Regions from separate parts of the Homo sapiens genome. Here region 1 is linked to region 2. A link means that fine-mapping ties the variant in region 2 to the expression of a gene that starts in the linked region. Tissue or cell type: unexposed skin. Region 2 holds a variant in brackets; the other region holds the start of a gene. All regions are shown on one strand. Distances are between the middles of the regions.

Evidence for each region. PIP is the estimated chance that this variant, and not a neighbour inherited with it, causes the effect. A credible set is the group of variants that fine-mapping cannot tell apart.
Region 1: KLK1 starts here. The variant in region 2 is the best candidate, but not a certain one, in a credible set for the expression of KLK1 in unexposed skin (GTEx, PIP 0.62).

What each region holds. Positions count from the first base shown.
Region 1 is chr19:50,821,488-50,826,618 of GRCh38, forward strand. KLK1 (kallikrein 1) reads right to left here and starts at 2,300. Exons shown (of 5, transcript NM_002257.4): 1 at 2,216-2,300; 2 at 225-384. The coding sequence starts at 2,261. It overlaps KLK15 (kallikrein related peptidase 15), which reads right to left. Exons shown (of 6, transcript NM_017509.4): 6 at 3,802-4,461. The coding sequence ends at 4,309.
Region 2 is chr19:50,869,827-50,877,816 of GRCh38, forward strand. KLK2 (kallikrein related peptidase 2) reads left to right here and starts at 3,613. Exons shown (of 5, transcript NM_005551.5): 1 at 3,613-3,693; 2 at 4,895-5,054; 3 at 6,646-6,932; 4 at 7,046-7,182. The coding sequence starts at 3,648. RefSeq lists promoters at 1-3,638, 3,013-3,638, 3,285-3,638, enhancers at 1-225, 1-58, 1-26, 667-961, 3,437-3,451 and a cis regulatory region at 3,437-3,451. The variant A/G (reference allele first, on the strand shown) is at 3,424.

The DNA of each region.
Region 1 (5,131 bases), 50 kb before region 2:
ACAGTCACACAGAGACACAAGCAGAACCAGATCCCAAGAGACCCAGGCAGCCTTGGAGAGGGGTGTCCAGCCCAGCTCTGCCCTGCCAGGCGACCTGCGCCAGAGCCTTCCTCTCTGCCTCAGCCCCCCAGTCTTGCCTGAGGTTATCCAAGGGGAATGCCACTGGCCTGTCAATCCTGTGGCAGCATAGATGCCCTCCTCCCAGACCCCAGGCCCCTACTCACTCGCTGATGCAATGAGCAGCTGTGAGCACCCACTGGCGGTGCACCAGGATGCCCCCACACTGGAAAGTGCTGAAATGGTACAGAGCCGCCTGCCAGGGCTGGGAATGCTGCTCACACTCCCAGCCTCCCACAATCCGGGACTGAATCGGGGGCGCAGCACCTGCAGAGGCGGTGCTGGGTCAGGAAGGGCAGGGTTGGCAGGAGAGGCCAGGGACAAGGCTAGGAGAGGGAGCTGGGCTGTGGGTCTGAAGGGACATTGCGGGTAGAGGACCAGGGCTGGAGGTTGGGGACATGGGCAAGGGGTGTTGGGAAGGGGTGGGACTCTGGACTGTTCCCTGGGCTTTTGGAGTGGTGGCTGGACCTGGTGGGGAGATTTTGTGCTCTGACAGTAGAGCAGCCTCCAGGGATCAGGGTAGGAGACAGGAGACAGTGTCTGGAGCAGACACTGCATCTGGGCGTCAGGTCATTTGGGGTCTGGGGCTGGGGGATGGGAGGTGGTGGGTTAGGGGAGTGGAAAGGGATTCTGGAAACCAGGGATCAAGGCGCCAAGGGTGGGACAGGATCAGAGGCTCACTGAGGAAGAATCTGGAGGGCTAAGGGGCTCCTAGGCTAGGGAAACAGGACCTGGGTTGGGCTTTTGAGGTTCAGGAAAGGATGCAGCTTTAGGGAACCAGGTCTGAGAGGTAAAGAAGAGCATCTGGACTGAAGAGTTTGGGGGTGACTTGGGGTCCCTACATTGGGGTTGGAAGGGGCCAGCTTGGCTGGGACAGTTAGATTTCAGGGCTTCCTGGTTAAAGGGTAAAAGAAAGGGCTATGGTTAAGGCTAGAGGTGGGCTTCCGAGAGGTTTTGGGGTCCTTCCTGTGAACCAGGAATGGCAATCTGAGGGGAGGTTGGGGCCCTGAGAACACAGTTGCGGTCAGGACTGGGACGGGGCTCAGGAGGAGGGAGGCGTGAGTGGCAGTCCTTCTCGGACAGGGTGAAGGATGGGATCTTCGTTTCTCATGGGGATGGGGTTCATGGTCTGAGGGTACTGGAAGGATATGGGGTCCTCTTGGAGGCAATCCTAGGAAGAGGATTGGAGAAGTGGTGAGAACAGGCGCCAAGCAGCTGTGGGAATGCAATGCAGGACCCACTTGACGTGAGGTTGTAGAATCACATACTGACTTGGGGGAGGCCAGGGCAGAAGCGCTGGCTGAGAAGGCATTCAGGATCCTTGGGGTGGGGTTCCAGAAAACCAGAGCTGTGTAGGAACAATTCAGGCAGAGAAGGGCTGGGGCCTGGGGCGGGATGGAACTTCCCCAAGGAAAGGAGCATGTGGTGGGAGGGTGTGGTGTTTTTCCTGGGAGAGCTGGGGGTGCTGGGTGGGAAGGGACATTTGCAGACCCCCCCCCATACCAGATGGGGGATCCCACATGCCAGTTTGGGAAGCAGGGTTTTCTGGTGAAATTTGGGGGACCCTGGAAGGACTGGGGAGACCAGATGTCAGGGTCTGGAGGACACAGTTGAGAGCGGACAGCTGGATGGAAAAAGTCACTGGAGTGTGGTGGGATTTGTAGACTCAGGAGCCAAATAGGTGGCCGCAGGGAACTAGGGGGCAGGAGGGGATGATCAGAGTCCTGTGGGGTGGGGGAAGCCCATGGGAGGGTTGGGGTCCTCCAGAGAGAGACAGAGATGGCCCAGAATCTGCCCCTTTGGTAAAGCGGTGGGACAGGGCGTTGGCTAGGGAAGAGGAGAAAGTACTGAGGCTTCCTGGGAGGAGCAGGAATCTGGTGTGGGAGTGAGCACTATGACAACATGGAGGAGCGGGGGTGGAAGTTTAGGGTGGGGCCGCGCAAGATAGATAAGAGCCGGGGCACCCCGGACTAGGATAGACTGTGGGCCAGAGGGATGAGGGTGGGGTGTTGGAGGGGAAGGTCTTATCGGGGGGGGATGTGAGGCCAGCAAGAGAATCAGGGCCCGTTCCCCCTCCCACATCCCCCCACTGTCTCACCAGTCCCCCCCAGGGACAGGGCGAGGCACAGAACCAGGAACCACATGGTGACAGAGGTGTCCAGGGGCCAGCAGGTGGAGGAACTGGGGAACCTCCCTGGGGAGGCTTTTAAAAGCCCTTATCCCCTCAGAGCCCCACCCCTGCCCTGCTGGCACCCAGATGTTGGCCAAGGCCCTTCCCCTGTTGCCTGGGGGCTGGACAATTGCCCCCCCCCCCTCCGATCCCCAGAGCTGTAGACGGGGAGGGAGAACCAGCACCTGTTCTGCAGGCCCTGGATCACGCTGGACGCATTCCTGGGGTTGAAGCCAGGTGGGGCAGGGCCTGTGGCTCTGGGGCTTTGCTCTGGGGAGCAGCCAGTGAGGCAAGGGGGGACTGAGGGGAAGCAGAAACAGGAAGACGGAGGAATCAGTGACCCCTGGTACAAAGCCCCATATACCTCAGTCTCAATTAAGGCCCTGCACCCCCAGACCTGGTGCCCTCAAACACCAGCAGTTAGGGCTCTGATTCCCTGCACCACTCGGAGCCAAGATACTAGCATCTCAGCTGCCAGTTCCCCCTGAAATATAAGCCTTGGCCTTCAGAATGCCCTGGTTCTTGCACTCCCAGACCCAGGACCTAGGTCCCCAAAGCTACTGTTCCTTTCATAATAAAATTTTGGGGTACACATCACCACATTCCTAGTGCCTCCAGATCCAGGAATGTGAAGTTTCAGGGGTCTCCCAGGGTAAGTTCTTTAGCATTACAAAATCCAGTGTCCCTCCCAAACAATGCTGGGGTCTCAATGAGCCTCCCACTTCTTGCTCCCAGTTATGGGTGCTCAACGTCCTGTCCTCCAAAGTCCCAGAGATCTGGACAACCTTCCCTCCCAGGTCAAGATCAGGCTAACCACAGATTCCAATGACCCTTCCCCCCCACCACCAGTACAATATTTAGGTCTCACGAGCCAGGTTCATGTACTTCAACATTCAGCGACCTTGAACATCACATTTTGTGGTCTCTGAAGATAATTAGGAACTAGATTCCTGCAGCCTCAATGGTAAACCCATAGGCTTCCAACAGGTTGTCTTGGCTTTTTGGTAAAATCAAAGCAGCTCAGAGTTCCAGCCTCTGCTGTATATCAGGGACCTGGCTAAGGAAAGGACAGTATTTGCCTTTTTGCCATGGCTACCAGGAAGCCCAGAACTAAATCTTTTTTTTTTTTTTTTTTTTTCTGAGATGGAGTCTTGCTCTGTCACCAGGCTGGAGTGCAGTGGCGCGATCTCGGCTCACTGCAACTCCTGCCTCCTAAGTTCAAGCGATCCTCCCACATCACCCTCCCAAGTAGCTAGGATTACAGTCGTGTGCCACCACGCCCGGCTAAATTTTTTTAGTATTTTTAGTAGAGATGGGGTTTCACCATGTTGGCCAGGCTGGTCTTGCACTCCTGACCTCAAGTGAGCCGCCCGCCTTGGCCTCCCAAAGTGCTGGGATTACAGGTGTGAGCCACCATGCCCGGCCCAGAACTAAACCTTAAAGAAAAAGCCATTCTTGGTAATCTAGTGTCTGTTAGGTCCTTTAACTGGGATCCAGAGATAGAGGGTATTTACTCAGTGCCAGACACGATTTTAATCAGTTCAGACGAATCATCTCATTTAATCCTCACAACAGCCCTTTGAAGTCAGCAATAAGATGGTCTCATTTTACAGATAAGGAAACCAAGGCGAAGTGAGATTGGGCCTCTTGTTCAAGATCACACGGGTGGTCATGTGTGTTGAATGAATGGAGCCCTGCTTCAAGCCGCTTCTCCTCACCTAGGGATCGGGGTGGTGGGTGAAAAGGAACAGTGTACAGTGTCTCGGGGTTTCTCTTTGACCCCAGAAAAAAGTCACAGAAATTCCTACAGAGCAACTTGGATCAGCGCTTTGTTATCTTGGCATTAAACAGGTGACCTTGAGCGCCAGCTTTGTCCTCAGGTGGGACAAGTCCTTGGCTAACATCTGGGCCTTGGACAGGGTCTTGGGGGATGGCTCCGTTCTGTTCCATGTCAGGCGGGGCTGCTGGCCAGCTGTGGGGGCTTCTGCTCAGTCAGGGGCACAGGAGATAGGCTAGAATAGTCAGTTCCTCTTCATGGTTTCCCTGATCCACTCCAAGTAGTGGCAGACTTTGGTATAGACACCAGGCTTGGTGGTGTTGTCACAAGGGACGTCACCCCAGGACACAATGCCCTGCAGGATGCCCCCACAGACCAGGGGTCCCCCAGAGTCACCCTGTGGGGAAAAGAGGGGGTCTCAGGTTGAGTGAAACCTCCTGGATTCATCCTCATCCTAATCACCATTTGCAATCTCACCCCAAACCCAATCCATCCCCATCCCAGGGAACCCCAACCCAACTCAACTCAATACAGCCCAGTTTATCCCAAACAGAGCCAACCCAACCCCAACCCCAACCCCAATTCAACACAGCTCAATACAACTCACCCAACCTATATCCAATCTCACCCCCATGCAACTCCAGTGCAACTGTACTAAGTTAAATCCAACTCAGCCCACATCCTCACCATTCAAAATCAAATCAAACCCATGCCCATCTCAAAATCCAATCTCAATCTTCATGTCTTCTGCATTCCAAACAAAATCTACCTCATCCCAATTCAACCCTGACGTATTTCCCACCCAGAATCAAACCAAACCATTCCCATTCTCAACCCCAACCCATGCCATCTCAAACTAACTATCACATTATCCACCTCAAACAACGCAATCCCCACCTATAACCCCAACTCCAACCTCACCCCTATTCTAACTTCTCTTCCTACTCCATCTCCAAGCCTAACCCTAGCATCTTCTCTGGCCCAAAGCAAAGAAAATCCAACCCCATCCGGACTCCCACACCTGTCCCCATCCCTCTTCTTCCGCCTGATGGCCCCTCTAGGCTCTG
Region 2 (7,990 bases):
ACCATGGAAAATTGTCTCCCAACACTGTTCACCCAGAGCCTTCCACTCTTGTCTGCAGGACAGTCTTAACATCCCATCATTAGTGTGTCTACCACATCTGGCTTCACTGTGCCTAACCAAGATTTCTAGGTCCAGTTCCCCACCATGTTTGGCAGTGCCCCACTGCCAACCCCAGAATAAGGGAGTGCTCAGAATTTCGAGGGGACATGGGTGGGGATCAGAACTTCTGGGCTTGAGTGCAGAGGGGGCCCATACTCCTTGGTTCCGAAGGAGGAAGAGGCTGGAGGTGAATGTCCTTGGAGAGGAGGAATGTGGGTTCTGAACTCTTAAATCCCCAAGGGAGGAGACTGGTAAGGTCCCAGCTTCCGAGGTACTGACGTGGGAATGGCCTGAGAGGTCTAAGAATCCCGTATCCTCGGGAAGAAGGGGCTGAAATTGTGAGGGGTTGAGTTGCAGGGGTTTGTTAGCTTGAGACTCCTTGGTGGGTCCCTGGGAAGCAAGGACTGGAACCATTGGCTCCAGGGTTTGGTGTGAAGGTAATGGAATCTCCTGATTCTCAAAGGGTCAGAGGACTGAGAGTTGCCCATGCTTTGATCTTTCCATCTACTCCTTACTCCACTTGAGGGTAATCACCTACTCTTCTAGTTCCACAAGAGTGCGCCTGCGCGAGTATAATCTGCACATGTGCCATGTCCCGAGGCCTGGGGCATCATCCACTCATCATTCAGCATCTGCACTATGCGGGCGAGGCCGGCGCCATGACGTCATGTAGCTGCGACTATCCCTGCAGCGCGCCTCTCCCGTCACGTCCCAACCATGGAGCTGTGGACGTGCGTCCCCTGGTGGATGTGGCCTGCGTGGTGCCAGGCCGGGGCCTGGTGTCCGATAAAGATCCTAGAACCACAGGAAACCAGGACTGAAAGGTGCTAGAGAATGGCCATATGTCGCTGTCCATGAAATCTCAAGGACTTCTGGGTGGAGGGCACAGGAGCCTGAACTTACGGGTTTGCCCCACTCCACTGTCCTCCCAAGTGAGTCTCCCAGATACGAGGCACTGTGCCAGCATCAGCTTCATCTGTACCACATCTTGTAACAGGGACTACCCAGGGCCCTGATGAACACCATGGTGTGTGCAGGAAGAGCGGGTGAAGGCACGGACTCCTGTGTGGTCAGAGCCCAGAGGGGGCCATGACGGGTGGGGAGGAGGCTGTGGACTGGCTCGAGAAGTGGGATGTGGTTGTGTTTGATCTCCTTTGGCCAGATAAAGTGCTGGATATAGCATTGAAAACGGAGTATGAAGACCAGTTAGAATGGAGGGTCAGGTTGGAGTTGAGTTACAGATGGGGTAAAATTCTGCTTCGGATGAGTTTGGGGATTGGCAATTTAAAGGTGGTTTGGGATGGCATGGCTTTGGGATGGAAATAGGTTTGTTTTTATGTTGGCTGGGAAGGGTGTGGGGATTGAATTGGGGATGAAGTAGGTTTAGTTTTGGAGATAGAATACATGGAGCTGGCTATTGCATGCGAGGATGTGCATTAGTTTGGTTTGATCTTTAAATGAAGGAGGCTATTAGGGTTGTCTTGAATTAGATTAAGTTGTGTTGGGTTGATGGGTTGGGCTTGTGGGTGATGTGGTTGGATTGGGCTGTGTTAAATTGGTTTGGGTCAGGTTTTGGTTGAGGTTATCATGGGGATGAGGATATGCTTGGGACACTGGATTCAGGTGGTTCTCATTCAAGCTGAGGCAAATTTCCTTTCAGACGGTCATTCCAGGGAACGAGTGGTTGTGTGGGGGAAATCAGGCCACTGGCTGTGAATATCCCTCTATCCTGGTCTTGAATTGTGATTATCTATGTCCACTTCTGTCTCCTTCACTGTACTTGGAATTGATCTGGTCATTCAGCTGGAAATGGGGGAAGATTTTGTCAAATTCTTGAGACACAGCTGGGTCTGGATCAGCGTAAGCTGCTCTGGTTTTATTGAACAGATGAAATCACATTTTTTTTTTCAAAATCAAAGAAATCTTATAGAGTTAACAGTGGACTCTTATAATAAGAGTTAACACCAGGACTCTTATTCTTGATTCTTTTCTGAGACACCAAAATGAGATTTCTCAATGCCACCCTAATTCTTTTTTTTTTTTTTTTTTTTTTTGAGACACAGTCTGGGTCTTTTGCTCTGTCACTCAGGCTGGAGCGCAGTGGTGTGATCATAGCTCACTGAACCCTTGACCTCCTGGACTTAAGGGATCCTCCTGCTTCAGCCTCCTGAGTAGATGGGGCTACAGGTGCTTGCCACCACACCTGGCTAATTAAATTTTTTTTTTTTTTTTGTAGAGAAAGGGTCTCACTTTGTTGCCCTGGCTGATCTTGAACTTCTGACTTCAAGTGATTCTTCAGCCTTGGACTCCCAAAGCACTGGGATTGCTGGCATGAGCCACTCACCGTGCCTGGCTTGCAGCTTAATCTTGGAGTGTATAAACCTGGCTCCTGATAGCTAGACATTTCAGTGAGAAGGAGGCATTGGATTTTGCATGAGGACAATTCTGACCTAGGAGGGCAGGTCAACAGGAATCCCCGCTGTACCTGTACGTTGTACAGGCATGGAGAATGAGGAGTGAGGAGCCACCGGAACCCCATATTGTTTAGTGGACATTGGATTTTGAAATAATAGGGAACTTGGTCTGGGAGAGTCATATTTCTGGATTGGACAATATGTGGTATCACAAGGTTTTATGATGAGGGAGAAATGTATGTGGGGAACCATTTTCTGAGTGTGGAAGTGCAAGAATCAGAGAGTACTGAATGCCAACGCTTCTATTTCAGGAACATGGTAAGTTGGAGGTCCAGCTTCTGGGCTCAGACGGGTATAGGGACCAGGAAGTCTCACAATCCGATCATTCTGATATTTCAGGGCATATTAGGTTTGGGGTGCAAAGGAAGTACTTGGGACTTAGGCACATGAGACTTTGTATTGAAAATCAATGATTGGGGCTGGCCGTGGTGGCTCACGCCTGTAATCTCATCACTTTGGGAGACCGAAGTGGGAGGATGGCTTGAGCCCAGGAGTTGGAGACCAGCCTAGGCAACATAGCCAGACCCTCTCTCTACAAAAAAATTAAAAATTAGCTGGATGTGGTGGTGCATGCTTGTGGTCTCAGCTATCCTGGAGGCTGAGACAGGAGAATCGGTTGAGTCTGGGAGTTCAAGGCTACAGGGAGCTGCGATCACGCCGCTGCACTCCAGCCTGGGAAACAGAGTGAGACTGTCTCAGAATTTTTTTAAAAAAGAATCAGTGATCATCCCAACCCCTGTTGCTGTTCATCCTGAGCCTGCCTTCTCTGGCTTTGTTCCCTAGATCACATCTCCATGATCCATAGGCCCTGCCCAATCTGACCTCACACCGTGGGAATGCCTCCAGACTG[A/G]TCTAGTATGTGTGGAACAGCAAGTGCTGGCTCTCCCTCCCCTTCCACAGCTCTGGGTGTGGGAGGGGGTTGTCCAGCCTCCAGCAGCATGGGGAGGGCCTTGGTCAGCATCTAGGTGCCAACAGGGCAAGGGCGGGGTCCTGGAGAATGAAGGCTTTATAGGGCTCCTCAGGGAGGCCCCCCAGCCCCAAACTCACCACCTGGCCGTGGACACCTGTGTCAGCATGTGGGACCTGGTTCTCTCCATCGCCTTGTCTGTGGGGTGCACTGGTGAGATTGGGGGGATAAAGGAAGGGGGGCGGGTTCTGACTCTTATGCTGAAGCCCTTTTCCTCCCACCCAGTGCCCCAGCCTCGTCCCTTCAGCCCACAGTTCAGCCCAGACAATGTGCCCCTGACTCTTCCACATTGCAATAGTCCTCATGCCCACACTAGGTCCCCGCTCCCTCCCACTTACCTCAGACCTTTCTCTCCATTGCCCAGCCAAATCCCTGCTCCCAGCTGCTTTACTAAAGAGCAAGTTCCTGGGCATCTCTGTGTTTCTCTTTATGGGGTTCAAAACCTTTCAAGGACCTCTCTCCATGCCACTGGTTCCTTGGACCCTATCACTGGGCTGCCTCCTGAGCCCCTCAGTCCTACCACAGTCTACTGACTTTTCCTATTCAGCTGTGAGCATTCAACCCTGTCCCCTGGACCTTGACACCTGGCTCCCCAACCCTGTCCCAGGAAACCCAGATTCCACCAGACACTTCCTTCTTCCCCCCGAGGCTATCTGGCCTGAGACAACAAATGCTGCCTCCCACCCTGAGTCTGGCACTGGGACTTTCAGAACTCCTCCTTCCCTGACTCTTTGCCCCAGACCCGTCATTCAATGGCTAGCTTTTTCCATGGGAAAAACACGAGCACCCCCAACCACAACGGCCAGTTCTCTGATTCCCTAAATCCGCACCCTTTTCAAAACCTCAAAAACAAAACAAAACAAAACAAAGCAAGAAACAACTCAGGCAGAACTGTTTGCTTAACCTTGGACATGGTAAACCATCCAAAACCTTCCTCTCCCAGCAACTAAACCTCTCCACTGGGCACTTATCCTTGGTTTCTGGAACCTCTTATTCTCTTAGAACCCACAGCTGCCACCACAGTGTCCCTTCTCCCAGTGTAAGACCCCAAATCACTCCAAATGACCCAACCCCCAACCCGATGCCTGCTTCAGATGTTTCCCATGTCCCCTACTCTGATCTCTGGGGTCAGCTCCGTTCTCAGAGCATGAAGCCTCCCGACCTGGTCCAGCCACCAACCCGCTAACGCAGGGAATAGCTACAGAATTGCCAGCCCTCCCAGGACCCCTTGCTTGTGTCCTGGACTCCCAGTCCTGGTCCTCTGCCCCCATGTCTCTTCAAACCCACAGCTCAGCTCCCTCCCCTATCCAATTCTTTTGGGTCTGATCCCCCTGACCCAGCACCCCCTCCGCAGGTGCCGTGCCCCTCATCCAGTCTCGGATTGTGGGAGGCTGGGAGTGTGAGAAGCATTCCCAACCCTGGCAGGTGGCTGTGTACAGTCATGGATGGGCACACTGTGGGGGTGTCCTGGTGCACCCCCAGTGGGTGCTCACAGCTGCCCATTGCCTAAAGAAGTAAGTAGGACCCTGGGATCTGGGGAGGGAATGGCTGTGTCCCACAGGAATAACAGCGGGATGCTTCCCCCAGGGTCACTTCTCAGGTGAGGCTTCAGACTAAAGGAGAGAGGGAAGGTCCTGGCCCAGGTCGCACCCGGAGGCAGAGCTGGGGCTGGACCACTCTCCCCATGGCTGCCTGGGTTTCTCTCTGTGTCTGATCTCGCTGTGTCTCTTGGTATCTGGCTCTGGTTGTGTCTGTATGACTGTGTTTTGGTCTCTATGTCCCTCTCTCTTTTCTGTCTCCCTGTGTCTGTGTCTCCCCCGTCTCTGTCTCTGGGTCTCTCTGTGGCCATCTCTGTCACCGTGTGTCTCACCCTGCATCTCTTTGCCTGTCTTTCTCTCTGGGTCTCTGCCTCAGCCCTTCCTCATCACTACTGAACACACCCCGTGAGGGTGGGTGGGGAGCACCCAGAAAAAGGAAGGACTTTAAGCTCAATGTGTGTGCATGTGAGGGGGTGCCTGTCATTGCACAGCACTCTCTGCAGGACATCCCTCCACCCTGGGGAGACACAGGGAGGGCTGGTTTCAGCTGTAGCTGGGTGCACAATTGAGGAGGGAGGAAGGAGAAGGGGAAACAAGAAAGGAGGGGAAGGTGGCCGGGCACGGTGGCCCACGCCTGTAATCCCAGCACTTTGGGAGGCCGAGGTGGGTGGATCATCTGAGGTCAGGAGTTTGAAACCAGCCTGGCCAACATGGCAAAACCCCGTCTCTACTAAAAATACAAAAAGTAGCCAGGCGTGGTGCTGCGCGCCTGTAATCCCAATTACTAGGGAGGCTGAGGCAGGAGAATCGCTTGAACCCGGGAGGGAGAGGTTGCAGTGAGCCGAGATCGTGCCACTGCACTCCAGCCTGGGTGACAGAGCAAGACTCCATCTCAGAAAAAACAAACAAACAAACAAACAACAAAAAAAATCGAAAGGAGGGGAAGGGAGCTGGAGAGAGAAAGGGGGACGTGGCCCTGAGCTGTGGGCCGGGCCACCCGCCACTACAGAGCCCTCACTCCAGCCCCAGCTGCAGGTGAGCCACCCTCATGCCTCTCCTCCTCCCCCTGCTACTCCACACTCCTCAGATGCCCCCGTGGCCTCCCTCCTTTTTCTCTCCCACACTGTATCACCCCTGGCTTCCTCTCTGCTGTTTCTCCTTCTCTCTCTGACTTCCCGCATCCTTTTCTCATTTGTCTATTTCTCACTCCCTTCCTGGTTCTGTTCTTTCTCCCTTCCTCTTCCCCATGTCTATTTCTTGCTGTCTCTGTCTCTTCTTTGCTCATCCTAATTCTCACTGTTCTCCCTTCTGTTTTTGTCATTCCTCTGCCATTTTATGCTCTCTCTTTTCCACTTCGTTTCTTTCAGTTTCTGTCTCTGCCTCTCACATGATCACACTCCTGTTTTCTAACTCACTGTCTGTATTTCACCACGACTATATCTCCCCGACCCCTGTGCTTTTCTCACTGTTTCTTTTTCTTCCCTTTGGAGTCTCCCTTATCCTCCCCTGCCCCATCTACCTTTCCCCATTTTCTCTCTCCTCATGCATCCACCCCCTTCCTCCCCAGGAATAGCCAGGTCTGGCTGGGTCGGCACAACCTGTTTGAGCCTGAAGACACAGGCCAGAGGGTCCCTGTCAGCCACAGCTTCCCACACCCGCTCTACAATATGAGCCTTCTGAAGCATCAAAGCCTTAGACCAGATGAAGACTCCAGCCATGACCTCATGCTGCTCCGCCTGTCAGAGCCTGCCAAGATCACAGATGTTGTGAAGGTCCTGGGCCTGCCCACCCAGGAGCCAGCACTGGGGACCACCTGCTACGCCTCAGGCTGGGGCAGCATCGAACCAGAGGAGTGTACGCCTGGGCCAGATGGTGTAGCTGGGAGCCCAGATGCCTGGGTCTGAGGGAAGTGGGGCCAAAGAACCAGGTGGGGTCCGGCCACAGCCCAGTTTTTCTCTGACCCATAGTCTTGCGCCCCAGGAGTCTTCAGTGTGTGAGCCTCCATCTCCTGTCCAATGACATGTGTGCTAGAGCTTACTCTGAGAAGGTGACAGAGTTCATGTTGTGTGCTGGGCTCTGGACAGGTGGTAAAGACACTTGTGGGGTGAGTCATCCCTACTCCCAACATCTGGAGGGGAAAGGTGAGTGAAGACCCTAATTCTGGGCTGCAATCTGAAAGCTAACCAGACATCTGCCTCCCCTGCTCCCCAGCTATAGCCACGCCCCCTCCCCATGCCTCATCTGCCGCCCTCCTTCCCCCTTCCCTGACTCCCTCAACACAAGAGGTGATTCTCACAGCATAATTCACCCATTCCTGTGTTGAGCACATGCTTACTGGGCACCTGCTACGTGACCAGCATTGCCGTAGACCCTGGGAAGCAGCAGTGAACAGGTAGAGAGCAGCCTCTCCCTCCTGCAGCCCCCATGCTGGTGAGGGGCACTGGCAGGAACAGTGGACCCAACATGGAAATGCTGGAGGGTGTCAGGAAGTGATCGGGCTCTGGGGCAGGGAGGAGGGGTGGGGAGTGTCACTGGGAGGGGACATCCTGCAGAAGGTAGGAGTGAGCAAACACCCGCTGCAGGGGAGGGGAGAGCCCTGCGGCACCTGGGGGAGCAGAGGGAGCAGCACCTGCCCAGGCCTGGGAGGAGGGGCCGGGAGGGCGTGAGGAGGAGCGAGGGGGCTGCATGGCTGGAGTGAGGGATCAGGGGCAGGGCGCGAGATGGCCTCACACAGGGAAGAGAGGGCCCCTCCTGCAGGGCCTCACCTGGGCCACAGGAGGACACTGCTTTTCCTCTGAGGAGTCAGGAGCTGTGGATGGTGCTGGACAGAAGAAGGACAGGGCCTGGCTCAGGTGTCCAGAGGCTGTCGCTGGCTTCCCTTTGGGATCAGACTGCAGGGAGGGAGGGCGGCA